Homo sapiens: one gene and its partners. The protein of the gene in region 1 interacts with the protein of each later gene in a pairwise test. Each region holds a gene or a part of one and is shown in the gene's direction. Other genes may lie near its edges. The genes, in order: SMCO4, CXCR2, SCN3B and STOM.

Region 1 (6,449 bases):
TTCCTTAATAGGATCTAACACTCTGTGTACATTATAATCTCCAAATCGGAGAAAAGTGCATATAAGAAGTTAGCATGTGTGCATACATGCATATCTATATACATAAGTAGGAAAAGACGGGAAAGTTCTAATCACAGAAAAAAAATCACAAACAATTCTGTGCTGAAGAATGCGTCCCTGCTTTCCTCCTCTCTGCCTCTGGTCTCCTGCCCACACATACTGGGGACCATTTGGAGTGTCCCCATGCTGACCGGTTGCCGTGGGTGTGTGCTGGTGGGGGGTAGGAGCATAGCAGGTGGAGTTTCATTAGAATTAGTAGAACTCAGGCATTTGTGAAGTTTCCGTTTCCCTGGTTAGGGAAGCTAGAGGCCGTGGGGCACTGGCATTTGAGAAGCTGGAGGCTGCAGCTTCCATCCTGCCTGAGCTGCTTGCTGGGCAGAAGCCAGGCTGAGCGTGTGAGCTTCATTTATTTCTCTCTGCAAGGGGCTGCTGAACCATGATGGGGGCACAAAGTGGGCGAAGGGCGGGAAGATAAGTGGGGTACACCCAGGAAGGTGGGGACTGTCCAGGCTTCAGAGTCACAGATGTGGGTTTGACCTTTGACTCTGCCAGTCCTTTCTTTTGTGTCAGTGGCAGGGCCTTGGATTCTTCCTTGTGAAACTGGAGCAGTCATTTTAGGCAGAGCTCTTTCCAGTGTAAGGGACAGAGACCCCTTGGAGCCAGCCAAAGTTGAAAGAGGCGTTCATCACATACAGAGACACGTCGGAGTACCCTGAGGACAGGAACCTGTGTAGAGCTGGCCTCACAGGGGACTCGACTAGAAGGAGGAGAGTGTGGAGGCTTCTCTTGTGGCCTCTCTGGAGTGCTCCCTCCACCCCCAGGCCTCTCTCCCACCTGGCTTCCCTGGTGACTACAACTGTGTGATTGTCCAACTTCAGTGTCCATTCATGTCTCTTAGATTCTTGAAGTAGAGGCCAGTTGGCCCAGCTTCTCCTTTAGGCAAGCCCACATTTCAGAGGTCCTAGCAGATGTGCTTGAGCCAGCCCTGGCCCAGGAGGCCGCCCGGTGCAGCCCCTGGGCCCAGAGCCATGGTGAGGCGATCCTTAGCCCAGAGGGAGGCGGGCATGGACAGTGCTCTGTGGTGGCCTTTCCACCCTCCAAAAGTGATTGCTTCTTGATTTCTCTTTCCCTGAGTCTGCCTCCCAACTTCCCAGACTTTAAGCTGAAACCTTCTCCTATTTCATTGAAAAAAACAGAAGCCTTTAGTCCCCCAACCCTCACAGTACGGAGCCACCCCTCGCCCCCAGTGCCATCTTCCTACCTCCTCTTGTTGAGTTCAAAGGGTCCTTTGCCTCTCGAAGGCAGGTCTGTCCATTCAGCTTCTTGTCTTGCTCCTACAGAGACCTCTTCTTTTTTCAGTGTCAGGGTTTTCTCCCATTCTATTAGACCCCTCAAACATCATTCTCTAGTTTCGCTTATTATTTAAAGAAAAAGAAAGAAAAACCATTTTGGCCACACACATTCTTCCCACAAAACTTCAAAGCAGTTTTCTGCCCTGGTGCTGTTTGGCGTGCTGGCATGCAGACCCGTCATCACAAGCTACCGGAAGACAGAGGGGCTTGCAGCAGAGTGTCAGCCAGCTCTGCACTGAGCACGTGCCACTGACAGTTTTTCCCTGGCCAAATATTCCCGAGGAAGGAAGCAGTGCGTTCGCTTATGTTCTGGCACAAATGCCTCTGTCTTCTCACAGTTGACCTTCTTGACTGTCTTGGTCCCCACGACAGCACGTTCTCTTTTGCCTCACTCCTTTTCTCTGAGTACCCCATGCTTGCTCTTCCCCTTCCTGCCCTGTAGCTGTCAGGGTGAAAGGACTCAGTCCTGGGCCCTTTCTCTGCCTGCCTTGGACATGATCTCTCTTAATCCAATAGTTGATGACTTCCAAATACAGATCTTCAGCCCAGACCCAGCTCCTGACTCATTTATCCAATTGCCTCCTTGATATTATTTCCATGACGATGTCTAAGAAGCATCCTCACATGCAGAGCACTCAATGCGCTTCTTGAGTCCGCCCTTCCCCAGTGCCCATGCCCTCCCTGGCTCAGGCCACTCTGCCCTCTGCCTGGTGCTCTTCCCAGCTTTTTTCCTGGTTGGTCCCTTTTCACCATAGGGTCCCCTCCCCAGTCGTTATCTCAGAGATGCTTTCCCTTGCTGCCCCAGCTCACAGGTGAGTGAGAGCAGAGACGCTGCTCCTCCTGAAGCCTGATGAAGTACCCAGGATTCAGACGGGCATGTTTGCCCTTTAAATCCTGACCAGACCGGCCCTGGCCCCAGCAGCTTGAGGCTTTTTTCCATGCCTCCAGGAACTTCTGAATGCATCTTACAAATGTTGAGAACTGGTCATTGTGGAGGCTGGGGCCTTTGAATGTCAACTACACTTGTGTGGGTGGATGCAGACAGCAGCATGAAGTGCAGGAGGGAAGTCAGGCCCAGCACTGCTAGCCAGCCAGCCAGGGCATGGCTAGCCCCAGGCCTGGGGTGCCACCTGCCAGTCCTGTGAGGAATTTGGGAGAGACAGCAGCGGGCTCCGACAGGCCATTAGCTCCACAAGGAAATGGCCACGAATCAGAGTGCTGCTAATGGCTTGTTTCTTTTTAAACAATTTTTTTGAGGCCGTGTCGGAGAGAATAGGCTGCCATTTGCAGCTTTGAACAGGAATGCTGTCCATTGCTCTGTTAGAAGCCATGGGGTATTTACAAACTGGGTGACTGTTGGCAAGACATTTTTCCCCTTTGCTCCTTGGTTTCCTCCCTTCCGTGATGGGGATAATAAAGCCTGTCTGTCTGACTCACAGGGCCGTTGGGGTGTGTTCCAGGTGTTGGTATGTCAGCTAGCACGAATTCGCCGCCCGCTCTGTGCCAAGCCCTGAGTTATACAGCTTCCTACTCCATCCTCACCACGGTCCCGCGAAGGTGGGCATCACTCAAGGCTGCAGTCAGGCTTAGAGGAGCTCAGTGCACCCGTCCCTGGGCCGCCCACGGGTATGGGTGGAGATGTCTCAGCCCACCTGTACCGCGTCCCTGCGGGCGGGCAGAGCTCTGGGTACAGATGCATTTGTTTTCCAGATTCTCACAGTCATCCTTTAAGACAAGCTGTTCTCATTGTTCAGATGATGGCATGGAGGCCTAGTGGAGTTAAGTGACTTGCTCAAAGCCATTTAGCCTGTAAGTGATTGGTCCTGGATTTGAAGGCAAGTCTGCCTGGAAGTCCTTTGGAAGACTTGAAAAGGAGAATTGGTAAAGCCAGGGGTTCCTATACCTTTCAGGCCTTAAGAAAGTAATAGTAGGTGTTTTTTTTTTTCTCTCTGTTCCTTATTTCATGAAGGAAATTATACATTTGCCCAAATGGCGCTTCCCTTAATATTTGCTGAACCTTAATGTTTGCTTTTGATTGGCATTATGCCATCCTAGCACAATAATATTTGTCATCTCATACCTTAGGAAACTCTGCCTGATTTTGAATGATACAAAAAAGGTTTTGGGGTCTAAATGGAGTGAGAGGAATGGTAAGAGATTAAGTATCCCTCATAAAAACAGGATGGTGTCAGTAAGACCTTTCCCAACTCTGAGTTCACATTCTACCACCTCGGTCACTTAGGTGTAAATGTCATCTTCCTCCTCAAGATGATGACAGGCCACCCACTACCCTGGGACAAAACAGGGCAGACAGTATACAGCATAGGTCCCTCTGCTAGAGGAACATTGGTATTCAGTGCTCTTCTGCTTCCAAGAACCCCTCACTCCATGCTACTCTCCGAGAATATTGTAATGGACATCTGCCTTTGATATAGCCCTGATACCCAACCCCACTCCGTCACTGTGTTTGAAAAGTACTCTTCCTGCTGTACAAATTGGAAGGCTAGGCTGTGGGCATATGGGCCGGGGCTTGGCTAGTCACACATGCATGGAAGCTGGTGATGCAGAATGCTGGGGGGTGGCGAGTTCATCTGGAGACTGTGCCAGCAGCCACATCTAGTTTTTGGGGGTGGTCATGGTGGCTCGGCACCTCCTGCTCCAGTGCCCATGTCCAGTGCTGACGGTGGTGATGCAGGCTCTGGCATCCTCACACTGGGAGTGTGAGTTGGGCTCCAGTTATGGCAGCACAGCATAATGTCCTGCCCATTTTCTGAGCCTGGTTCTTTGGCTTTTCTGGGAATCAGTGAGATGCCAAAGGCCTTTAAGTAAACTCGATTTAAATCAGCTGAAGTCTGCTTCATCTGCTTAAAGCTAAGAAGCCGACTTTTATAGAGATGTTCCTCTGTAGTTATCCAAACATTTGTATTCATTCTTCTGGCCCCTGAAAGTTCTACTTCACCTGTTAGGCACCTCCGTGAGCTACAGAATTAACAGGAGAATCCCAGGTTGAGTGGGTGGCAGGACTGTGGGCTCAGCCGTCTCCCTTCATTATTACTGTGACCCGGGTCTCCATCATGCCCCCTAGACGGTGACCTCTGTGGGGACACAACTGAGTCCTTCATCTCTATCCTCAGCTCCTTGAGTAATGCTTGGCACACGGTGGGTGCTTGGGAAGGTTTGGATGAATGGGCCAAGGAACCAACAAAGAGATGAGAGAAGTTGATGCCTGTGGGCTCTCTGCAGCCTTAATGAGGCTGGCCTGGCTTGGGCAGGAAGGGGGCTACGTGCCTGGAGACTGCAGGCTGCCTGCAGTTCCATGCTGGAGATGGGCTGGGGAGATCATGGAACTTAGAGCAGGAAAGCAAGTAGCTAGAGCCACGAAAGGGAGAGCCGCTCCTCTGAGTGGAGGCGGCGTAGTTGGTGCTTCCCAATCCTTTCACCTCATGGCATGTACAGAACACAGTATTATTTGTCTGGTACCCAGGGCTTTGTCCAGCTGGCGCTGGAGCGGAGGCCCCTCTCACAGCACACCGGTGACCCAGTGCCCACTACTTAGAGCGCTGATCCCAAGAGAACTTAGAGCCTGGTGTGGCCTCTGTTCTTAGCCCTTTGTCATGTAAGTTGCAGATATTTTTCCTAGTTGTGTATTTGCCTTTAAGTGATTTATTTTTTCTTCTATTTGGTTTATTCTCTACTATCACAGTTGTTCTCTCTACAGGAGGTTCCAGCCTTGGCAAGAGGAGTGTGGCCCTTCCTGGAATCCCTCTGGACACACCCTCCTAGCATCCTCTAGGAAAGATGCGGCAGCTCAAAGGGAAGCCCAAGAAGGAGACCTCCAAGGACAAGAAGGAGCGGAAGCAAGCCATGCAGGAGGCCCGGCAGCAGATCACTACAGTGGTGCTGCCCACGCTGGCCGTGGTCGTGCTCTTGATCGTGGTGTTTGTGTACGTGGCCACGCGCCCCACCATCACCGAGTGAGCCCCGCAGCCGGCTGCGGACCCCATCGGCAGGGAGAGGAGGCGCGGGAGGGGGACGCAAACAAAAAATGGCTTTCATATTCAGAGATGTTCATGTTGCTGAGCTGTAAGCAGGAGCACCCTGTCTTCTCTGGTCTTTGACTTGATTAAAGTATCTCCGCTTTCTTGGGAGGGAATAGGGGATGTTTTATCAGTGAATGTGCCATACACCTTATGGTCCACTTCATGTGCCTTTCAGACTTCAAAGCGCGCGCGCATGTGTGTGTGTGTGTGTGTGTGTGTGTGTGTGTGTGTGTGCTTCTTTTTCTCTCCTAAAAATCGATAAGTAGCTCCACCTGAAGAGGGATGGAACCTCTGGGTCAGGAAACAGCTGGAATCCACACTCACCTCATTCCCATTGTTTGGATCATGCTTCTTTCCAACACGTGTTCACAATCTCCAAAGGGACTGTATTTCTTCTCTGTGCTTAATGTGATTTGAAATATGTTGAATCAAAGTGAAATATTTATTTTTTGAATAAAGGAGATAATAGCCTTAAACTGGATGCTTATCATGTTTTGCAAGGAGGTGCTGTCTGTGGGTCTCCCCCTGCCCACGGGTCTGCCCCTCTTCCCTCCCCTTCCCTTTCTCCTGTGGCTCTCTCCACCTTCCCCAGCACTCCCTCTGCTCATCATTTCTGAGTAAAATTATGCTTTTTGACCGATAATTTTAAGATGGAGAGGGACAGAAAGGGTATATTAATTGGCTTGCTTTAGAAAGTGAGAGTTCTAATTAGACTGTGACGACAGGTGCTTTTTACACCAGTTAGTTTTTCCTACTTCAACTCGGTATGTTTGTGCAAACAGCAATACAGAGTGATCCTGGAAGTAAAGGTCAGGCTTGGTTTTGTTCTTAGCTGAAAGGATGCAAATTGTTGGCATTCCAGCTGAGTTTTCAATGCAAATTGGCTGGAATGGTTGCCTCATTTTATTCTAACAGCACTGCTCAGGCGGTCCTGGTTCCTGATGGAGCAGCCTCTTTTTGGAAGTCAGATTCATGGTTACTGTTCTGAGGATGTCTG
Region 2 (7,029 bases), on another chromosome or scaffold:
GATGAAAGAAATCCATGCAATCCTGGGCAAGCCATTTCCTTTGGGCTTCAGTTTCCCCATCTGTAAAATGGAAAGACTAGGTAGAAAACCCCTCAGGTCCCTTCCCAATATAAACTCTACGAGTCTATGAAATGACTATGCATCCGAGAGCTGATCTGGGAACTAATTATTCAAAGTTATCAAAATCACCCGCACCCTCAGGAGCTCCACCCCTGAATTGCATTGAGCAATCTAATCTACCACTCACTTCCTCCACTGTGTTCTCACCACCACCTCCCTTTCATAGGTCACAGCTGCTCTTCTGGAGGTGTCCTACAGGTGAAAAGCCCAGCGACCCAGTAAGTCTTGGAACACCCACCCTTCCCACCAGCTAGAATGTCTCTGTTCTCTGTTTCCCTTGATACCCAGCCTACATTTATCCTAAGCATCTCTCCCCACCCTTGGTGGGCCCCTCACCCTCACCCCTTGGCCTCTTCATTTTCTCCCTTTGGGGCTCTCCATCCCCAAAGGAAGAACTTCTGTTCCTCCTCCCTCACAACCCTCTCCAACCACTCAGGGCCACTTGCTGCCCATGCTTTTCCCTTGGCCTGGCAGCCTTCCAAGACTCAGCCAGCCCTCCTGGCCTGGGCTAGGACTGGGTCTGAGGATGGGCCGAACACTGTTCGCTTCCCACTTCCCGACACTAAATGCAATATTTGTGGATTATATTTATAGAGAGAAAGAATACTGGAACTGTACTAAAATGACTCTTTTGTTGTTAAAAAGATTGCCTTAGATGTTTGAGATCTTGTAAATGTCTCTCGTTCTATAGCATTTTCATGTAATAAATTAGAATTCATGCCATCATCTATGGAGTTTCCAAACTACCATGAGTCACTAAGGGGCTGGCATTTTCCCTAAGTCAAGGAAGCTCCCTTTTTATCCTGGAATATATGACTGTGTGGTCAGCCGGACCCAGCCAGTTCAAGGGTGTTTGGTTTATCATCCCTGCAAGAGCTGTTTCTTTCATTCTGGGCCAAAGAAACGGCAAAAGAAAACAATGCATAAAACATGAAAGAATGTGAGTGGACCATATACAGGTTGATTTAATGATATCTCAAGAACTTAGCTTTGCTGGGCACGGTGGCTTACACCTGTAATCTCAGCACTTTGGGAGGCTAAGGTGGGCGGATCACCTGAGGTCAGGAGTTCGAGACCAGCCCGACCAACATAGTGAAACCCCGTCTCTACTAAAATACAAAAATTGGCCGGGTGCAGTGGCAGGCGCCTGTAATCTCAGCTACTTGGGAAGCTGAGGCAGGAGAATCACTTGAACCCGGGAGGTGGAGGTTGCAGTGAGCCGAGATCACGCCATTGCACTCCAGCCTGGCAACAGAGCGAGACTGCATCAAAAAAAGAAAAAAAGAAAGAAAAAGAGAACTTAGCTTACAAATATGTTTAATAGATGAGGTGCACTTTTTTTAAGAGGAAGGGCTATAGACTACAAATAAGGCAAGTGTAGTCCTTTATACCTCACTGGAACAGTGGTTTCACCACTTCTCCACCCTGTGATCGCAGGCTGGTTACTGAGCCTCCCTGTTAGGTCAGCTGATCCTCCTTGTGCCTCAGTCTTCTAGAAACAGGGCCTAATTGTATCTATTTGTAATGAGCCATGGAGATCATGTACCTGTGAGGCACAAAGCAGACCTCAGATGTGTCATCTCCTTCCCTTAGTTTGTCCCTCTAACTGCCAAGTCATCCTCTGTAGAGATTGGTAAACTAAAAAACAACACCAACAACAAACACCCCTCTCCCTACCCTAGGAGCTGGAGGTCACTGGCCTGACCTGGTTCTCCTTGCTGAGTTCTCTACCTTCTGTCCTGACTTGCATGCTCTCCCTCTGGAACCTGAAGCTGACCCATAATGCCTGGGAGCATGAGCTCACCCATACACCTCCAGCCCACCCCCAGCACAGCTGAGCACTGGATTATCCACAGTGAGGATTTACCTGTGAAACATGCTCTGCCACTGCTGCCTGTGCTGACATGGCAGTTTCTGCAGCAGCCTCAGTCCTGGCTTCTCACAGCCAATATTCATACATACAAGGCCCTGCTCTCTAAGAGCACAAGCTCTCTGCACCCAATATGCCCTACATCTACTCTCAAAGATGGGTCTTCTGTTGGGTCATTTGTTCCCTTAAGAGCATCTGTAATCATCTGCTCCCAGAAGTGATCCACCCTTGACCTCTTGACTTCATTGGACATACCCTGGGCCTCTCAGCAAACTTGCTCTCAACCATGGGACTGAGGAGCTGGTGACTTCTTTCAGGTCTTGCTGACCATACTGGTCCAGCAAGCTGTATTCCCAGCCCTCTCAATACCTCCCCAGCCTTCTGGCCAGGCAGGGCCAGAAATGAGGGATTGCTTATAAATTACGTAAGACATACATAAAGTACAATGTTAACTTTTTTTTTTTTTTTTTTGAGACGGAGTCTCCTCTGTCGCCCAGGCTGGAGTGCAGTGGCGCCATCTCGGCTCACTGCAAGCTTCGCTTCCCGGGTTCACACCGTTCTCCTGCCTCAGCCTCCCGAGTAGCTGGGACCACAGGCGCCCGCCACCACGCCCAGCTAATTTTTTGTATTTTTAGTAGAGACGGGGTTTCACTGCATTAGCCAGGATGGTCTCGATCTCCTGACCTCATGATCCGCCCATCTCGGCCTCCCAAAGTGCTGGGAGCCACCACGCCCGGCCCAAATGTTAACTTTTATTGTTGTGATCTAGTATAGTACATTACAACTGATTGAATCTTCTCCATCAGTTGCCTCGGCATGCTGGGAAGGCAATGTATCTGGCCCCTAACTCTTAAAAGAGAAACTAAAAACTTGTCAGGAAGGTGATGGCTAAGAATTCCATCACTCTTGGGGGAAAAGTGGCATTATTTTTCCAGTTTTGCTTAATCTTCTTCAGCTTTCTTCTTTGCTACATATGATTGATGACAACAGAGACTTCCTTTCTGCTAAAAAGAAATCCTCCCTGGGACTTTTGTTGTTATTTTTGTAATATTTGTATTTGCTTTGCAAGGCCGTGTACCCTTTGATTAATCTTTTTTTTAATTAAGACATAAGTCACATACCCCAAAAGTCACCCATTTAAAGTTTTTAGCATATTCTACAACCATTGCCACTAATTCCAGAACACTTTTATCACTCAAAAGAAAAACTCCGTAGTCATTAACATTCCTCTCCCAGCTCCCCTTGACCCTGGAAACCACCAATCTACTTTCTGTCTCTACCAATTCTACCCATTTGCCTATTTTGGTCATTTCACATATATGGAATCACACAATAAGAAAACTTTTGTGTCTGCCTTTTTTCACCTAGACTAACATTTTCAAGGTTCATCCATGTTGTATTGTGTATCAGTACCTCATTCCTTCTCATGGCTGAATAATATTCTGTTGTACATAATACAGTCATAAGTTGCTTAACAATGCGGATGCATTCTGAGAAATATGTCATGTGAACATGGTAGAGTATACGATGCTATAGCCTACTACACACATGGGCTATATGGTAGAGTACTGCTCCTAGGCTACAAACCTACTCAGCATGTTACTGTACTAAATACTGTAGGTAATTATAACACAATGGTATTCTTATATATAAACATAGGAAAAGAACACTAAAAATACAGTATTATAATCTTATGGGACCACTGTGGTATTTGTGATGTGTCATTGACCAAAAAGTCTTTCAGTTGCTCATGACTGTTCCTCAATTTGTCTGTCCGTTCATCAGTTGATGGATATTTGGTTTGTTTCCACTTTTTGGCCTTAATGATGAATGCTACTATGAACATTAGCTTTCAATTCTCTTGGGTGTATACCTAGGTTGGGGTTTGCTGGTTCATGTGGTAACTCTATGTTTAACTTTTTTGAGCAACTGCTAAGCTGTTTTCCAAAGCAGCTGCACCATCTTACATTCCCACCTGCAATGTGGGAGAGTTCTGACTTTTCCACTTCCTCACCCACATTGTTCTTGGGCATCTTTTTCTGAGTGTGCCCAGCCTGGTGAGTGTGAAGTGGGTTCTGGGACCTTTAACTTCCTGGTTTTTCTCTCACACTGGGTTCCATTTTGGGGGTAGATTACGGACTTGGACATGGTTGGTGGTAGGGTGGTCATCCCTTACTCTAAGGCAATGGCCGGAGGGTGATCTATTTTGTGGTTCAGAAAGAAGCTAATTAGGGAGCTGGATTGCTTTAGTTGACTGCTTTGAGAAACTGGGATTTTTTTTTTTTTTTTTTTTTTTTTTTGAGGCAGAGTCTCGCTCTGTTGCCCAGGCTGGAGTGCAGTGATGTGATTTCGGCTCACTGCAACCTCCACCTCCTGGGTTCAAGCAATTCTTGTGCCTCAGCCTCCCAAGTAGCTGGGATTACAGGTGCACGTCACCATACCTGGCTAATTTTTGTATTATTAGTAGAGACAGTGTTTCACCATGTTAGCCAGGCTGCTCTCAAACTCCTGACCTCAAGTGATCTGCCACCTCAGCCTCCCAAAGTGCTGGGATTACAGGTGTGAGCCACCACTGGGATAATATTTTTGAATAACTGCAGCCCACCCTCCACACCCAGGCTTCCCCAGAGCAGGATCTGTGCTGTCCCTGTGGCAAGGGCAGAGCCCCAGGAGCTAGACTAAATCTGAGAGGAACAGGGGAGTCAAGGCTAGATGGAGGCACACACATGCAGGACAGGAAGGGTCTCCAGCAGGGCTGGAAAGCCACCAAGCAAGGGTAGTGCAAACCCTGTCTTCTCTGCTTCCTGCTGCCCCTCTCTTATTGGGTAGCAGACTGGCTGTGTCTGCTTATCCCGCATGGTGGCACATGGCTGCCCAGAGCTCCCCAAATAACCTGTTACGTTTCCACCCACAGGGAGAATCAGGCAGCCCGCTTGCTTATTGTTTTTAATATACTTTTCCAAACTACACAGACATTCCCAAAGCGGGTCTCCTTCTACCCAAAAGAGAAACGCTGGGCCTTACTAATTAACTGAAGACTCTGCTAGCTCGAGCCTTCCAAAACTCCATGCCACAATTGTTCAAACCATTTTCCAGAATACATCTTTTAAAATAACTTTTAGAAAATTGAACAAAGGGATTCATGTCTCAGCTTTATAGTCAAACCATGATCTTTTCTGAGGGTATAGCCCATTTGGAGTTCCTGCTTAATCCCCTGATTAAAAACTGAATGGGGCTGAGTGCAGTGGCTCATGCCTATATTCCCAGCACTTTGGGAGACAGAGGCAGGAGAATTACTTAAGGTCAGGAGTTTAAGACCATCCTGAGCAACATAACAAGTCCCCATCTCTAAGACAAAAAAAAAAGAACTGAGTGACATCTCACATCTCACATTTCTGAACATTAAACCCAGCCTTGATAGCCAAAGATGCTCGCCACTGAAGGATCCAGGTAGTATTGAGGGTTCTGTGGGGATTATCCAAAGAGAACTTTCTACAAAGTTTTAGGTGATGGCGATGCTAAAAGAAATGCTAAGAATTTCTCTCTTATATTAAAGAGAACTATGGTCCTCTCATAAAATGTACCATTTATCACCAAATTTATCTCATAACCTAAGAGCTACCACTTACAAATTTGAAGGGAAAAATTACTACATTGTAATACTCAAGCCAACACAAAGAATCCTATCCCAGTTTCTTGAGTGGATGGGCAAGAATATGGGGAATTTATTATGCAGTAACCTTCATCTCTCTTCTATAGGTCAGGATTTAAGTTTACCTCAAAAATGGAAGATTTTAACATGGAGAGTGACAGCTTTGAAGATTTCTGGAAAGGTGAAGATCTTAGTAATTACAGTTACAGCTCTACCCTGCCCCCTTTTCTACTAGATGCCGCCCCATGTGAACCAGAATCCCTGGAAATCAACAAGTATTTTGTGGTCATTATCTATGCCCTGGTATTCCTGCTGAGCCTGCTGGGAAACTCCCTCGTGATGCTGGTCATCTTATACAGCAGGGTCGGCCGCTCCGTCACTGATGTCTACCTGCTGAACCTAGCCTTGGCCGACCTACTCTTTGCCCTGACCTTGCCCATCTGGGCCGCCTCCAAGGTGAATGGCTGGATTTTTGGCACATTCCTGTGCAAGGTGGTCTCACTCCTGAAGGAAGTCAACTTCTATAGTGGCATCCTGCTACTGGCCTGCATCAGTGTGGACCGTTACCTGGCCATTGTCCATGCCACACGCACACTGACCCAGAAGCGCTACTTGGTCAAATTCATATGTCTCAGCATCTGGGGTCTGTCCTTGCTCCTGGCCCTGCCTGTCTTACTTTTCCGAAGGACCGTCTACTCATCCAATGTTAGCCCAGCCTGCTATGAGGACATGGGCAACAATACAGCAAACTGGCGGATGCTGTTACGGATCCTGCCCCAGTCCTTTGGCTTCATCGTGCCACTGCTGATCATGCTGTTCTGCTACGGATTCACCCTGCGTACGCTGTTTAAGGCCCACATGGGGCAGAAGCACCGGGCCATGCGGGTCATCTTTGCTGTCGTCCTCATCTTCCTGCTCTGCTGGCTGCCCTACAACCTGGTCCTGCTGGCAGACACCCTCATGAGGACCCAGGTGATCCAGGAGACCTGTGAGCGCCGCAATCACATCGACCGGGCTCTGGATGCCACCGAGATTCTGGGCATCCTTCACAGCTGCCTCAACCCCCTCATCTACGCCTTCATTGGCCAGAAGTTTCGCCATGGACTCCTCAAGATTCTAGCTATACATGGCTTGATCAGCAAGGACTCCCTGCCCAAAGACAGCAGGCCTTCCTTTGTTGGCTCTTCTTCAGGGCACACTTCCACTACTCTCTAAGACCTCCTGCCTAAGTGCAGCCCCGTGGGGTTCCTCCCTTCTCTTCACAGTCACATTCCAAGCCTCATGTCCACTGGTTCTTCTTGGTCTCAGTGTCAATGCAGCCCCCATTGTGGTCACAGGAAGTAGAGGAGGCCACGTTCTTACTAGTTTCCCTTGCATGGTTTAGAAA
Region 3 (7,029 bases), about 30 Mb from region 1:
GGCTCACGCCTGTAATCCCAACAATTTGGGAGGCCGAGGCGGGTGGATCACCTGAGGTCAGGAGTTCAAGACCAGCCTGGCCAACACGGCGAAACCCCATCTCTGCTAAAAATACAAAAATTAGTCGGGCATAGTGGTGCGTGCCTATAATCCCAGCTACTAGGGGGACTGAGGCAGGAGGATTGCTTGAACCTGGGAGGTGGAGGTTGCAGTGAGCCAAGATTGTGCCACTGCACTCCAGCGTGGGCAACAGGGCGAGACTCCATCAAAAAAAAAAGAAAGAAAAACAGCCGCCCTTCACAGATACAATTTCATTTGATTTGCATGCAATTCCAATATTGAACAATAATGCTGGGTTAGATGTGTTCCCCCTTCCAAAGTTGATTTTTTAATATGATGTACAATATGAAGGGAAAGAGTCTTTCCATTTACTTTCTGCATGCATGAAAAAAAGTTTCCTTATTTCCTTTGTTAAAGCATGTAATAATTTTTATTTTTTAAAGAGATTTAAAAAATAATACAATACAATAAATAATTAATACAATAAATAATTAATACAATAAAATAATAATAATTGTATTAAAAAAATTAATACAGACGATGTCTCGCCATATTGCCCAGGCTGGTCTCTAACTCCTGGGCTCAAGTAATCCTCCTGCTTCAGCCTCCCATAATGCTAGGATTATAGGCATGAGTCACCATGCCCAGCCTTTAAAATAAATAAATAAATAAAACCCTATATTTGCCTGTGCATCACAGTTTACAATGTAATTTTCAATACATTGCTTGTTTTGGTCCTCATGTCTATCCCTGAGGTAGTCAGGGGAAAGAGTGCTATTTCCAGTTTAGAGATGAGAAAATGAGCTCGGGGAAGGGAAAGGACTTGCTAGAGAACCCTTGTTTTCTGATTTCAGTCTTCCAGTGCTCCTTCTAGCACCTCTCATGGACACATGTGCTACTATGCACAATCGCCAGGAGGGCACCTGTCCTCCCATTTCTCTTCTGAGCTACCGTCCCATCTCTCCCCAACACCATCACCTGTCCTAGGGCCTCACTCACTAGCACCTAGTACCTTCTCTGCCCTTCTTCTCCAGGCCTGCCCTTCTAGTTGCCCTGTGTGTTTTCCTCTCTTCCCCTGGTGATCTTTCGTGCATCCTATTCAAGGCCCTAAGTGACCAGCTAAATTGACAGAACAAGTCACGTCAGGGTGTCAGCATCTAAAAATAACCTCATTTATTACCCCTTTTTGGAAATTGTTTATATTCTAATCAAATTTTTCATTATCTCAGTGCAAAGGAAAGCATTCTAGAGCAATCTCAGGAGGAAAAATTGGGCATTGTCCAAAGAAGAGAAAGATTTGAGGGTATCAGAGAAGCTGGTTCATAATTCTTTATTATCTGCCTCATGATAGATGGATGCTACTACTCCCTAGTGAAATATGATCATTATTAATAATCATGTTTTTCCTTCTCATAAATTTCTTCATTATTATTATGGGAATTGAAGAGAAGAACAAAGGTCAAATGATTTGGTCAACATTATTCCAAGAGTTTGTTACTTTTAGTCAGCAATGTAGTTTGAGCTCCTGCCATATTTACAGCCTTCTTTGAATACCTAGAGGGTTTCATAGAAAGAAGGGCAGTGGTGGACTGGGTGCTGTGGCTCATGTCTGTAATCCCGGCACTTTGGGAGGTCAAGGTGGGTAGATCACCTGAGGTCAGAAGTTTGAGACTAGCCTGGCCAACATAGTGAAACCCTGTCTTTACTAAAAATACAAAAATTAGCTGGGCGTGATGGCAGGTGCCTGTAATCCCAGCTACTCAGGGGGCTGAGGCAGGAGAATCGCTTGAACCCAGGAGGCGGAGGTTGCAGTAAGCTGAGATCATGCCATTGTACTCCAGCCTGGGTGACAAGAGTGAAACTCCATCTAAAAAAAAAAGAAAGAGAGAGAGACAGAGACAGAGAGAGAGAGAGGAAAAAAAGAAAGAAAGAAAGAGAAAGAAAGAAAAAAAAGAAAGAAAGAAAAAAGAAAGAAAAGAAAAAGAAAGGAGAAAGAAAGAAAGACAGTGGTGTGCTGAAGACTCAAAGGATGGAGAAACAGACATTACCTCTTGAAGCAAGGAGCAGCAAGTCATACTGCAAAAGGCAAGCAAACAGAGGTGGGGGAACTTTGTGGCCATTTTTCAATGTACTCTTCAGGATCATACGAGCAGAGTTCTCATGCCCTGAAACTAGATTTTGACCAGAAGGGAAGGAGTGGGACTTGCTCTATGATGATACCTTGGATTATTGTTGCCTTAGGGGCAACCAAGAAAAGAGAGGGGCTACCCCACTTTCTGCCATACCCCATTTGCCATCCTGACTGCTTTCCCTCCATTAACTATAAATGAACTAACTATGCTTCTATCTCTGCCATCCCATCTACTTGTTCACTAGAGCACATCACCTCTCACCTTTTCAAAGATGTTAATCCAGCAAATCATTTTCTTGCATTTCATTTCTTTCAAACTCCACCAGCTCTACTGTCATCTTCACCAAAACAAAATCGTCTTCCAATCCGATCCCTGTACCAGACCTCTTAACTGTTTTGATTCCACCCTTGTCCCTTTCACTTCATCAGTTTATTCCCAACACAGCATCAGATCATATGATCTTGTACAAATTAGATCCCATCATTCTTCCTCTCAGAACCTTCTGCTGCTCCATGCAAATGCCATAAACTCTAAGCAAATGCCAAGGTTCTAACATGGCCAATAAGACCTGCTGTGATCTGGCCCTCCCCATCCCTCCTACTACTTCATCCCCTTCTATTCTCACGTTGTTTGCTGTAATTTCCACATTGGACTGTTTGCTGTCTGTTGAGCATGACAAACACACTCCTTTGGGCCCCTTGAGCCCTTGAGTTGCAATTTCCTGTGTTTGACATGCCTTCACACAGATATGTGTATAGCTTGTATCCTCATTTCTTTTCTTCAGCGCCTGCTCAATGATACCTTCTCAGAAAGGCCATCCTCCAATGACCCTGTGCACACACTCTCTCCTGTTTTATTTTTTCTCACAGCACTTTTTACTATTTAATGTTGCTGTTTTCCCTCTCCCTCCATTGGAATGTAAGCTCCATAAAACAGGGATTCTTTTCTTTTGTTCTCTGGTGTATTCTTCGTGCTTAGAATAATGCCTGGCACCCAGAAGGCACTCAGTATATTTGGGAAATAAACGAAAGATAGAATAACATGAATAATGACATTTGTACAAAGCACATTCATGTAAATTAATCCATAAAATTCTCATGATAAACCTACTAGACAGATGTAACTTTCAGCATGATGTCGATGAATAAACTGAGTCCAGAGAGATTACATAGTACATCAAACCCAACTCTTCAGTTGCCAGATTCTATCTTCACCCTGCCTCTATAATTGTAACTGTGCATTCCTTGAGACTTCTTAGTCCACTTCTGAGTTTGTCAACATGAAATGAATGAATTTATCTTTGCCAGCTCTCATTAAATATGAATGTGCCTTGAGGTTCCATACTACACGGAGTTCTTGCTGCATACGCTCTACCCCTCTGCCCACTCACAAACTTTTGCGCAAACCACATTTCCTTTTTGTTTAATCAGATCTATAATCAATACTTCAGACTCATCATATGCTGAAGATGTTTCTGATCAGTTCTCCCTAGATGTGAGTCCTCTCTCCATTAACGTGGCTCACCATCTGCAGAAGCAATAGGTCCTCTTGAAGACTGTCAGATAAGACTCACCCAGCTTGCTGGAGAGTTGAAAACCCAATTACATTTATTTTACCTTGATGTTTACAACTTTAAGTTAATTCTAGTGCCACTAGTTTTTAAACTCCATGTTTTAAAATAAATACATTGCCTTCTAAGTCAATCAAACACAGTTTTTGGACTCAAAATTAATTTATGGCAGTGTCTTATTAAGCTCTAAATAAAACCTTCCTCTGCTTTTAGGAAAGAACGCTCTGCCAGGAGATGAACAGGCTGACCATTAACAGTGGACTAGTTTTTAAATGTAGTGTGTATTATTTCTTTTTTTTTCTGGGGGTTCTGTTTTTATTATTAATTCATGAAAAAGTAGCATCAGAAGGGATCTTCAAAGTCCTAATATAAGAATCTGCGGTGACCATCATGTTGTTTTTATTTTTTCAAGAGATAGGGTCTTACTCTGTCAACCAGTCTGGAGTGCAGTGGTGCCATCATAGCTCATTGCAGCCTCAAACTCCTGGGCTCAAGCAATCCTCTTACCTCCTGAGTGGTTGGGACTACAGTTGTGTGTTACCATGTTTGGCTAATTTTTATTTTATTTTATTTTTGTAGACTCAGGGGTCTCACTATGTTGCCCAGGCTTGTCTCAGACCCCTAACATCAAGCAATCCTCTCAACTTAGCCTCCCAAAGTGCTGGGATTGCAGGTGTGAGCCACAGCACCTGGCCTCGTCTTACTTTCAAATATCCCAAACAATGCTGTGTACACTCTCTTAGCATTTAGTTATTTGCATTTGTGAACAGCTCCAAAATCATAAAATTCTTTCTTTATTGCATTAAACTTATTTTTTTCTTATAACTTTTAGGGTTGGGCAGAATCAAATTTCTCTTCCATCTGCCAGCCTTCAAATATTTGAAGACAGATATGTTCTGTGTCCAAGCTAAGCAACTCGAATTCTCCCATTTTTTCCTCACCAGACTTTATCTCCAGATCCTTCACCATCTCCCTCACCTCTGGGCATGCACTCTTTGAACAACTTCCTTTTTTAAAATGTGACATCCTGAACTGATCATAATAGTCCAGATTTGTTCCAAAAACAGTGCCGAGAAACTACGCCTCCTTCCTCCTGCGTACTGTACATCTGTTAATGCAGCTCACATTTGCGCATGTTTTGCTGGCAGCCTTGTCCCGCTCAAGTTATTCTGAATTATCAAGCTGATATACTTGCCTCCTTTTAAAAAACAGACTTCAAGTTTCTAGAGGGCAGAAACACTAAGTCTTAGACCTCTGTGTGGCATGCAAGGTGTCCCACAATCTGACCCCGCTCCAGATTTTAACTTGCCTTGCTATACTCCTCTGCATAGACCATTGTTCCAGCTTAGTGGTCCGCTCGCCATTTTCTTCACTGCTGCTCCAACCTCCACCATGTGTCAGAATTACCTACAGTTTTCACACAACACAGATACAATTACATCTCTCCACGACTTTAAAACATTGGATACCTCACACTGGAAGGGACACACAGAGGTCTTCACAGCATGGGCCCTGCCTACCTTTCTAGCCTCATGTTTCACCATCCTTCTCTTCCTTTCTCCCCAGGCCAACTGGGAGTAACTAACTGCCTGTCTTCTAAGAACAGAATATATCATGAGTGTGTTACTTGCTGTGGTCTGGTTTAATCCTAGTTAGGAATATGTGTTCCCTATTGGATTATAAATGCATTTAGGGCATGGTTAGTGTTTTATTCATCTTTGCATCTCTAGTCTAGCATCAGACCTGGCAGAGAGTGGATTTTAATGAGTGGTGGTGGAATGAAGGGGGATGGATGGTTGCTGGGTAGGTAGATGCCCTGTCTCCCATTTGGGCTATAAGACTTAGAGAGCAGGGCTCAAGTATAATGTACGGTGCTGCATCTCCACTGCTTCCAGGGGAAGGATTTCAGTCAATGTCTAGATCATCCAGGTCTCCTCCAATGTGTACACGTTCTGAGCCTGTACATTCAGGGAGCGCAGGTGAAGGTGTAGACATGTGCACGTGGCTTTTTTCAGGTTGGCCTCATGACTCTTCCTTCTCTGTCTCTCTTCCCTCCCTCCTTCTTCTCCAATGTTTCTCTCCTGTGCCCCTCCCCCACCACCTGCTGTTCCTTCCCTGTCCATCTGTCCTCTCTGCAGTCAGTGTCTGCTTCCCTGTGTGTGTGGAAGTGCCCTCGGAGACGGAGGCCGTGCAGGGCAACCCCATGAAGCTGCGCTGCATCTCCTGCATGAAGAGAGAGGAGGTGGAGGCCACCACGGTGGTGGAATGGTTCTACAGGCCCGAGGGCGGTAAAGATTTCCTTGTATGTTAGACTGCTGACTCTGGCCTTTCTTCTGCTGGCCTCTGCTGTTCCCAGCCTGGCTCCTGACAGTCCGGGGGATGCCAAGCTAGCAAACACTGGCTCCTTCTCTTCCAAACACTGACAGATCCTCAGCAGATAACTGACAGCCTTAGTGAAGCCCCAGCTTCTGTGAGAGAAAGGGCACTGGGCCAGCTGCAAGCACCCTTGATTATGGGCTGGAGGAAGCAGAGGAAAGAGATATGCTATATTTAAAGCCTACTATGTGATAGGCGCCCTACCACACATTTTGCAGGTGTTTTCATCTAATCTTCTGTGCCATCCTATTATATGCATTAAATTCATAAAGAAATTGGAATAACACAAAGCATCATTATGTGAAATAACAAAGGTTAGCTCCTTTAACTCCTGCAGTCCCATTGAAATAGGAATGACAGGGATGACAAAGAGTGATCCAAGGGTGACATTCACCCGGGACACCCAGCACAGCCACATCAGTGAGTCAATTATGTCAAACAGTTCTCTCGTGGATACTTGCTGTGCCGAGTCTCCTAAGTGGCTGAACCCCCAGACTTATCCATGATTTGGAAACGAAGAGATTCGCTCCTGGCAGAGCTGGGAGTCTTCCAGATTCTGCTCCTGCACCATAGCCAGTGTCAGTTCTGGGTGGTTGGTGCCAGTGGCAAAGTGGTTGTATATGTGTGTGTATATATATATATGTATGTGTGTGTGTATATATGTGTGTGTGTATATATATATATATATATATATATATATATATATATATATTCTCTCTCTCTCTCTCTCTCTCTCTCTCTCTCTCAACGGGGTCTCCCTCTGTCACCCAGCTGGAGTGCAGTGGTGTGATCTCGCTTACTGTAACCTCCACCTCCCAGATTCAAGCGATTCTCCCACCTCAGCCTCCCCAGTAGCTGGGACTATAGGCACCACCACCATGCCCAGCTAAT
Region 4 (7,029 bases), on another chromosome or scaffold:
CATAAGATAATTTTCAAAAAATGCTATCGAGATTCAAAGGAAAGAAAAAGACATATCTAGCTAGAAAACTTGCTGAGAAGTATTTTATTTTATATCTATTCTACTATGCAGGATACTGTGCTAGACATTGAGAATATAAAAGTGAATAAGCAACATCCCTGCCCTCAGGGAGTTTTTACTCTAGTATGTTATGGGAGACTTGGACAGTATTTGAAAAGGCACCAAATGCTGTCAGATAAATAAGTATTTGTGGTCAGTCTGTCCTTGTTTGGAATTCATTTCACCCTGGAAACCTAGACCTGTGTCTGTCACAGAGCCTTGAAACTATCTTTTGCTATAAATAGGCATGGCTGGCATTAAGAGGACTTCCTCTGTAAAAATATCAGATTTCATTCTCACAACTCCAGCCATGCTTTTCAGTTTGGATACTGTCTTGAGAAAGTGCTCAACCACGAAAACATTCTTAATGAGGATTTTTTTTATTGAGGGGTGAATTTGGAACACGGGCTTTGGAGTAAGATGACCCATATTTGAGTCCCAGGTCTTCCATTGTGTGACTTTGGGAAAGTTAAATGTTGCTTTAGGTAACTCATTTGTAAAAGGGATTTAAAAATACCCTCACAGGGCTGTTGTAAGAGTTAAATGAGATACATGTCTAAAGTAACTTTAAAAAATGCCTGGGGTATACACAACCCCTCAAAACAGCCACTGTTGCTATGATCAGTCATGGTAATACTAGATAAAGCTTTCTTCACAAACAGTACTATGGCCCTGCTTTGAATATTCTCTCAATGAATATGTCTGTACCCCCTAAATTATAACTTAGAAACCTCCAGGATTACTTTAGATCATTTTATTTAAGTATACATGAAGACATTTACCTCACACTATAACACAGGATCAGAAAACTACCAAGTCACATACAACCCAAGTACTCACTATATTTCTGATTTTTCATCCTATGTTTTAGAGCACTTGACCTGGGTGCCAACATGTGTCTCTCTTCTCCCATGTTCCCAGCCTGAACACTCTGCTTATTTCTTGGCCTCCTATTTATTCCAAGCCCCATCTTACTGCCATTTTGCCCTTTCTTCTGAGCAGTAACATGTGCCTGGCATACCTTTTCTCCCCTCTGTCATTAAAATAGCTCCTGAAAATACAGCAGAAGCCTTCCAAGTGGTTGATAAGAAAACCTACTATATCCCTTGGCCTTCTCAGTCCCTATGTCCTCTACAGAAAGCAAAAGCAAACTAAAAATGAGGATGACACTTGATACAGAAAATAGGAACACAACACTGAGGTGATGGGAGTTCCCAGGATGATAGTGAAAGCAATTGCAGAATGATAGCCGTGCACACCAGATGAAGGAAGTCCACACAAGGCTCTGAGAGAGAATTCTTCCAGAAGATAAAATTGATAGTATACCTGACCTCTTTGAGAGGAAATTTAGGCAATTGATTTAAGGTTGGATCAATAAGTACGTTGAAAACCGAACAAAGGGAAAAAATAAGACAGTAATTCCAGAAAAAACAAAAATAGTACAGGAAGAGAAAACCAGTGATACCTCACTACTTGGCTTAGCTTTAAATTGCACTTACAAATTCATAATATAAAATCTCATATTGATCTAAATGAAGTTATGATGTAATTATATTGGAAAGCTGGGTATAAGTATGTGGTGGGGGTAACGGGGAGGAAAGAGAACTAAATCTTTTTCTGTAGTAGAAAGTTAATAGTCCTCAAAACTGAAAAAGCAAGAAGTAACAAAACAAGCATTTCCTTCCTTCCTTCCTTCCTTTTCTTTCTTTCTTTCTTTCCTCACTTTGTTGTCCAGGCTGGGGTACATCACAGCTCACTGCAGCCACGAACCCCCAGGCTCAAGCAATCCCCCTATTTCAGTCTCCTCAGTAGCTGGGACTACAGGTGTGTGCCACCACACACAGCTAATTTTTTTTAAGAAGTTTCAAGTAGAGATGGGAGTCTCACTAGGTTGCCCATGCTGGTCTCAAACTCCTGAGCTCAAGCAATCCTCCCATCTCGGCCTCCCAAAGTGCTGGGATTACAGGCGTGAGCCACCATGCCTGGCAGAAGCATATTATTATTATTATTTTTTTTTTTTTTAAAGTAGAGACAGAGTCTCCCTATGTTGCCCAAGCTAGTCTCAAACCCCTGGGCTCAAGGGATCCTCCCTCCTCAGCCTCCCAAAGTGCTGGGATTACAGGTGTGACCCCTGCACCCAGCTGCAAAGCGTATTATTTAGAAATATGGAGGTAGATATCAAAATGGTCAAAATAGCAAATGTTTTTGAGGAGGAGGAAATTGGAAGAGGTGAGCATGGGAATGCCCTTTTTTTGTACTAATCATATAGAATGGTTTGACTTTTTAAACTTTATGCAAGTGTAACTTCAAAAACACAAATGCATAACCACGAAGGCCAAAAAAGAAGGTGAAAGAGAATAGCTACAGGGAAGAAAAATAGGTTACACATTTTATTTATTTATTTATTTTTAAAAATATGATTTAAGGCCGGGCGCAGTGGCTTATGCCTGTAATCCCAGCACTTTGGAAGGCCATGGTGGGCAGATCACTTGACGTCAGGAGTTCGAGGCCAGCCTGGCCAACATGGTGAAACCCCATCTGTACTAAATACAAAAAGTAGCCGGGTGTGGTGGCAGGTGGCTGTAATCCCAGCTACTCAGGAGATTGAGACGGGAGAATCGCATGATCCCAGGAGGTGGAGGTTGCAGTGAGGTGAGACTGTGCTGCTGCACTCCAGCCTGGGCAACAGAGCAAGACTCTGTCTCAAAAAATAAATAAATAAATATATATATATATATCATTTAAAAATATGGTGTGTACACTAGGAAAATTTTCAAAGAATATACCAAAATACCTCTGAATTTAAAGTAATTTTTCCCTCCTTTGTTATACTTCTGTGAATTTTTTGCATTATTACCTTTGTAATCAGACGGAAAAGCTGTTGCATATTACAGGAACAGGAAACAATTAGAAATGTGAGAGGAAAGCCGTGTACAAAGATGTTCACTACAACACTGTTTATAGCACTAAGAAATCAAACAACCTGTGTAATCAGGAAGTGGGCAATAAATGATGCTGCATAAACCTAGTGAAATATTTTACAGGTGTAATTTTTAAAAAGAGGCTCTAAACAACTTTATACTCATATCATATGGTTTTCACCTTTATTCGTACTGTACTCCTAGCTAAAATGCTCTAATGCCTTTTCCCTCTTTCCTTTTTCTTTTCTTTTCTTTTCTTTTGACAGATTCTTCCTCTGTTGCCCAGGCTGGAGTGCAGTGGTACAATCTTGGCTCACTGCAACCTCCACCTCCTGGGTTCATGCAATTCTCCTGCCTCAGCCTTCCCAGTAGCTGGGATTACAGGCACTCACCACAACGCCTAGCTAATTTTTGTATTTTTAGTAGAGACGGGGTTTTATCATGTTGATCAGGCTGGTCTTGAACTCTTGACCTCAAGTGATCCACCTGTCTCGGCCTCCCAAAGTGCTGGGATTACAGGCGTGAGCCACGACGCCCAGCCTCCACTTTCTTTTCGTCGATATTTTCTTACTATTACATCCTTCAGGAAACCCTCTGACAGCCACCTGAATCACCTCCCCGCCCCATTCCTTTCTCACCTCCATCCTAACTGCGTGAGTTAACTCATTCTGTGTCTTCAAAATATTCTGAACAGATACTCTATATCTGTACTTACCACCTAATATTATAATTATGTGTTTGTCTGACTTTCCCACTAAACTTTAACCCTGAAAGCTGGGATTGGGTCTTACTCATTGTTATCATTTCAGTACAAAGCAGAGGGCCTAATAAATAGTAGATGCTTAATAAATGTTTGCTGAATAAAGTAATGAGTAATGTGGAAATATACTTGTGTTATGACATCACATAGATAAGGGAAAGTAGTACTTACACTTCAGGGCTGTATGAGGATTAGATGGGGAAATTCATGTAAAACAGCTGGTGTAGTGCCAAGCACATAGGTATTCAGCGAATGGTAAGGATGAAGATGGTGGTGATTATGCTAGTAACAGTTGTGAGAGTTGTATATTTTTTGTTTTCAACAGACAGCCCCAGTAAGGGCCTTGGACCTTGCGGATGGATTTTGGTGGCGTTCTCATTCTTATTCACCGTTATAACTTTCCCAATCTCAATATGGATGTGCATAAAGGTAAAGAACATTTCATTCACTTCTGGGAAGGGGTCAACTCCTACCTCCATAAACCTACTTCGTGTGTGCCTGTGTGTATGTGAGAAAGAAACAGACTGTCTCTCTCTCTTATAATTCTTATTTCTTCATCTTTCTTTGGAAAATTTATTCTTCTACCCACCTATTAAAATGGAACCTTAAAACTTCTTTTCAGCCATTGCCCTTCCCCGTGGGCTAAAGTAAGTTTCACCATCAAAAATTTCCTGGGGCCAGGGATGTGAGATGGTTCTGAGAGAACAAGTTCTTCAGAGTTAGGATGATAGGGTTTGACTGCTGGCTTTACTGTTTATTGTGTGACCTTTGCTGTTTCCTCACCTGTAAAATGGGAGAAAGTAACAGTACCTACTTCATAGGAGTGTTGCGAGGATTAAATGAATTATGTGTCTAAATGTACTTATCACAATGCCTGGCACGTCATAAATACCCTCAGTGCTCGTTATTTTTTCTACAAAGTTGTTAATACTTTGATATATGACTATTATTTACATATTTCTAAGAAGATAAAATATGCTCCAAGCATTTTCAGATCAATTTATTCTTAAGGGAATCAGAAGAAAAACTGTGAAGACTTCAGCTTTTTGTGTTTCTGAATTAACAATGCATGAGTAATTTTTTTTTTTTTTTTTGAGCCAGAGCCTTGCTCTGTCGCCCAGGCTGGAGTGCAGTGGCGCGATCTCGGCTCACTGCAACCTCCGCCTCCCAGGTTCAAGCGATTCTTCTGCCTCAGCCTCCCGTGTAGCTGGGATTATTATTATTATTATTATTTTTTTTTTTTTTTTTTTGAGACGGAGTCACCTTGTGGCCCAGGCTGGAGTGCAGTGGTGCGATCTCGGTTCAAGTGATTCTCCTGTCTCATCCTCCCTTGTAGCTTGGATTATAGGCACCCACCACCATACCCGGATAATTTTTGTATTTTTAGTAGAAACAGGGTTTCACCATGTTGGCCAGGCTGGTCTTGAACTCCTAACCTCCGTGATCTGCCCACCTCGGCCTTCCAAAATGCTGAAATTACAGGCGTGAGCCACCGTGCCTGGCCTGCATGAGTAACTGAATAACAATGTTAACAGCTGAGGAGTGAGGTTATGGATTTGTTTCTGTATACTATTCTGTCCTTCCTAAATTTATACAGTGAATATCTATTGCTTTTGTAATCAGTAAGAAAATAATAAATAAGCTTTGAGAAGGTAAACATTGGACATGTGATTTATAGATATGATCTGGTTCTAAAGAAAAAAGATGAGGCATCTAATCTGTTTAGAGCAGAAATATATATTTAAGAAGCCATGCATGTATATATTTGTACTCTTCATGTTAAATTATTATTCATGTTTTTATTCTAGATTATAAAAGAGTATGAAAGAGCCATCATCTTTAGATTGGGTCGCATTTTACAAGGAGGAGCCAAAGGACCTGGTCAGTACTGGGATTCTAGATTGTTTATCTGAAAACTAAAGTTCTTTTTATTTTTTTTATTTTTAGGTAGTTGTTTTTTTAAAGACAGGGTTTCATTCCGTCGCCCAGGCTGGAGTACAGTGGCATGCTCATGTCTCACTGCAGCCTTGAACTCCTGACCTCAAGCAATCATCCCACCCCAGCTTCCCAAAGCACTAGGATTACAGACGTGAGCCACCGTGCCCAGTCTAAAATTTTTTTATTGACGTGATTTCCCTTATGAGGGCCTCTTCTACTCTGTCTTAGATAAGAGTTCATGTAGCAGGAGTTGTATAACAATAGCAGTGGTTCTAGCCAATCTTTTGTTACCCTTTCCTTCCTACCCTTCCCCTCCCCTTCCCATTTGAGCTGATAAGATTACCACCTAGGCCAAGAACAGTACAGCTATACAAGTTTGAGCATGAGAATCTCTACCAAAGAAAGACTTTCAGTCATTCATTTGGCAAACTTCAATTAAGCTCCTACTGTGTTCCAGGTTCTGGGAATTCAAGGGAGACTAAAACACAGTCCCTACCCTCAAGGATCTTCCTATCTAGTGGTAGGAACCAACAAGGAAACAGATAGCTACAATCCTATGTGATAAGTATTATGATCAAGTACTCACAGAGAGCTGTGAGAAAAGAGAAAACCAGAGAAGTGTTACTGATCTGAACTAGTCGTAGGCTGAGTCAAGGCTTTCTGGAAGTTACATCTTGACTGAGTCTTGAGGTCTGAAAAGGTGTTAACCAACAGGAGGTGTTTGCGGCGGAAATAGCAACATACACAAAGCAACAAAGAGGAGAGTATTGCAGATTCAAGAAACTGCAAGTAGATCAGTCCAGCAAGAGTGCAGGGTGTGAAGAGAGAGGAAGTGGCTGAAGAGGGGAACAAAGGCGGGTTATGCAGGACCATGCGTGGGGGAGGGTTTGTATTTTAGGGGGGATTGCTCGGCTTGCAGCTTAGGAAATAGATTATAGGAGAGAAACTACAAAAAATAGAAAGATGGCCTGGGAAACGATTGCATTGGTCCCAGTGGGGCGGTGGGGAGAAGAGTGATAGCAACAGTAGATTAAGGAAATGAACTCCACAGACCTTAGTGGAGACAGTCAAATGTGGGAAGTAAGCAAGAGGAATCAAAGTTATCATTCCTGGCTTCTGGCTCATTCACGAAGATGAACTGGTGACTTTTCAGTTCACTAGGTTGATTTTCTTAAAACTGAATGGAGAAGTGAACTGATTAGGTTGCTGGTGTCTGTATAATGTGTGTATCTTTGTTGCAGGTTTGTTTTTTATTCTGCCATGCACTGACAGCTTCATCAAAGTGGACATGAGAACTATTTCATTTGATAT

What was found.
Region 2: the proteins of SMCO4 (region 1) and CXCR2 interact in binary tests that used the Homo sapiens proteins (3 or more experiments, as listed by UniProt).
Region 3: the proteins of SMCO4 (region 1) and SCN3B interact in binary tests that used the Homo sapiens proteins (3 or more experiments, as listed by UniProt).
Region 4: the proteins of SMCO4 (region 1) and STOM interact in binary tests that used the Homo sapiens proteins (3 or more experiments, as listed by UniProt).

Annotation. Positions count from the first base shown.
Region 1 is NC_000011.10:93,477,951-93,484,399, reverse strand, and holds the end of SMCO4 (single-pass membrane and coiled-coil domain-containing protein 4), read left to right. Parts: intron 1-5,115; coding exon of another isoform or gene 5,116-5,210; coding exon 5,211-5,390; coding exon of another isoform or gene 5,391-5,530; 3' UTR 5,531-5,928; downstream 5,929-6,449.
Region 2 is NC_000002.12:218,129,028-218,136,056, forward strand, and holds part of CXCR2 (C-X-C chemokine receptor type 2), read left to right. Parts: intron 1-282; exon of another isoform or gene 283-286; 5' UTR 287-338; intron 339-5,749; 5' UTR 5,750-5,774; coding exon 5,775-6,857; 3' UTR 6,858-7,029. UniProt on the Homo sapiens protein: Receptor for interleukin-8 which is a powerful neutrophil chemotactic factor. Binding of IL-8 to the receptor causes activation of neutrophils. This response is mediated via a G-protein that activates a phosphatidylinositol-calcium second messenger system.
Region 3 is NC_000011.10:123,644,622-123,651,650, reverse strand, and holds part of SCN3B (sodium channel regulatory subunit beta-3 precursor), read left to right. Parts: intron 1-5,900; coding exon 5,901-6,064; intron 6,065-7,029. UniProt on the Homo sapiens protein: Regulatory subunit of multiple voltage-gated sodium (Nav) channels directly mediating the depolarization of excitable membranes.
Region 4 is NC_000009.12:121,353,233-121,360,261, reverse strand, and holds part of STOM (stomatin), read left to right. Parts: intron 1-4,105; coding exon 4,106-4,209; intron 4,210-5,588; coding exon 5,589-5,661; intron 5,662-6,959; coding exon 6,960-7,029. UniProt on the Homo sapiens protein: Regulates ion channel activity and transmembrane ion transport. Regulates ASIC2 and ASIC3 channel activity.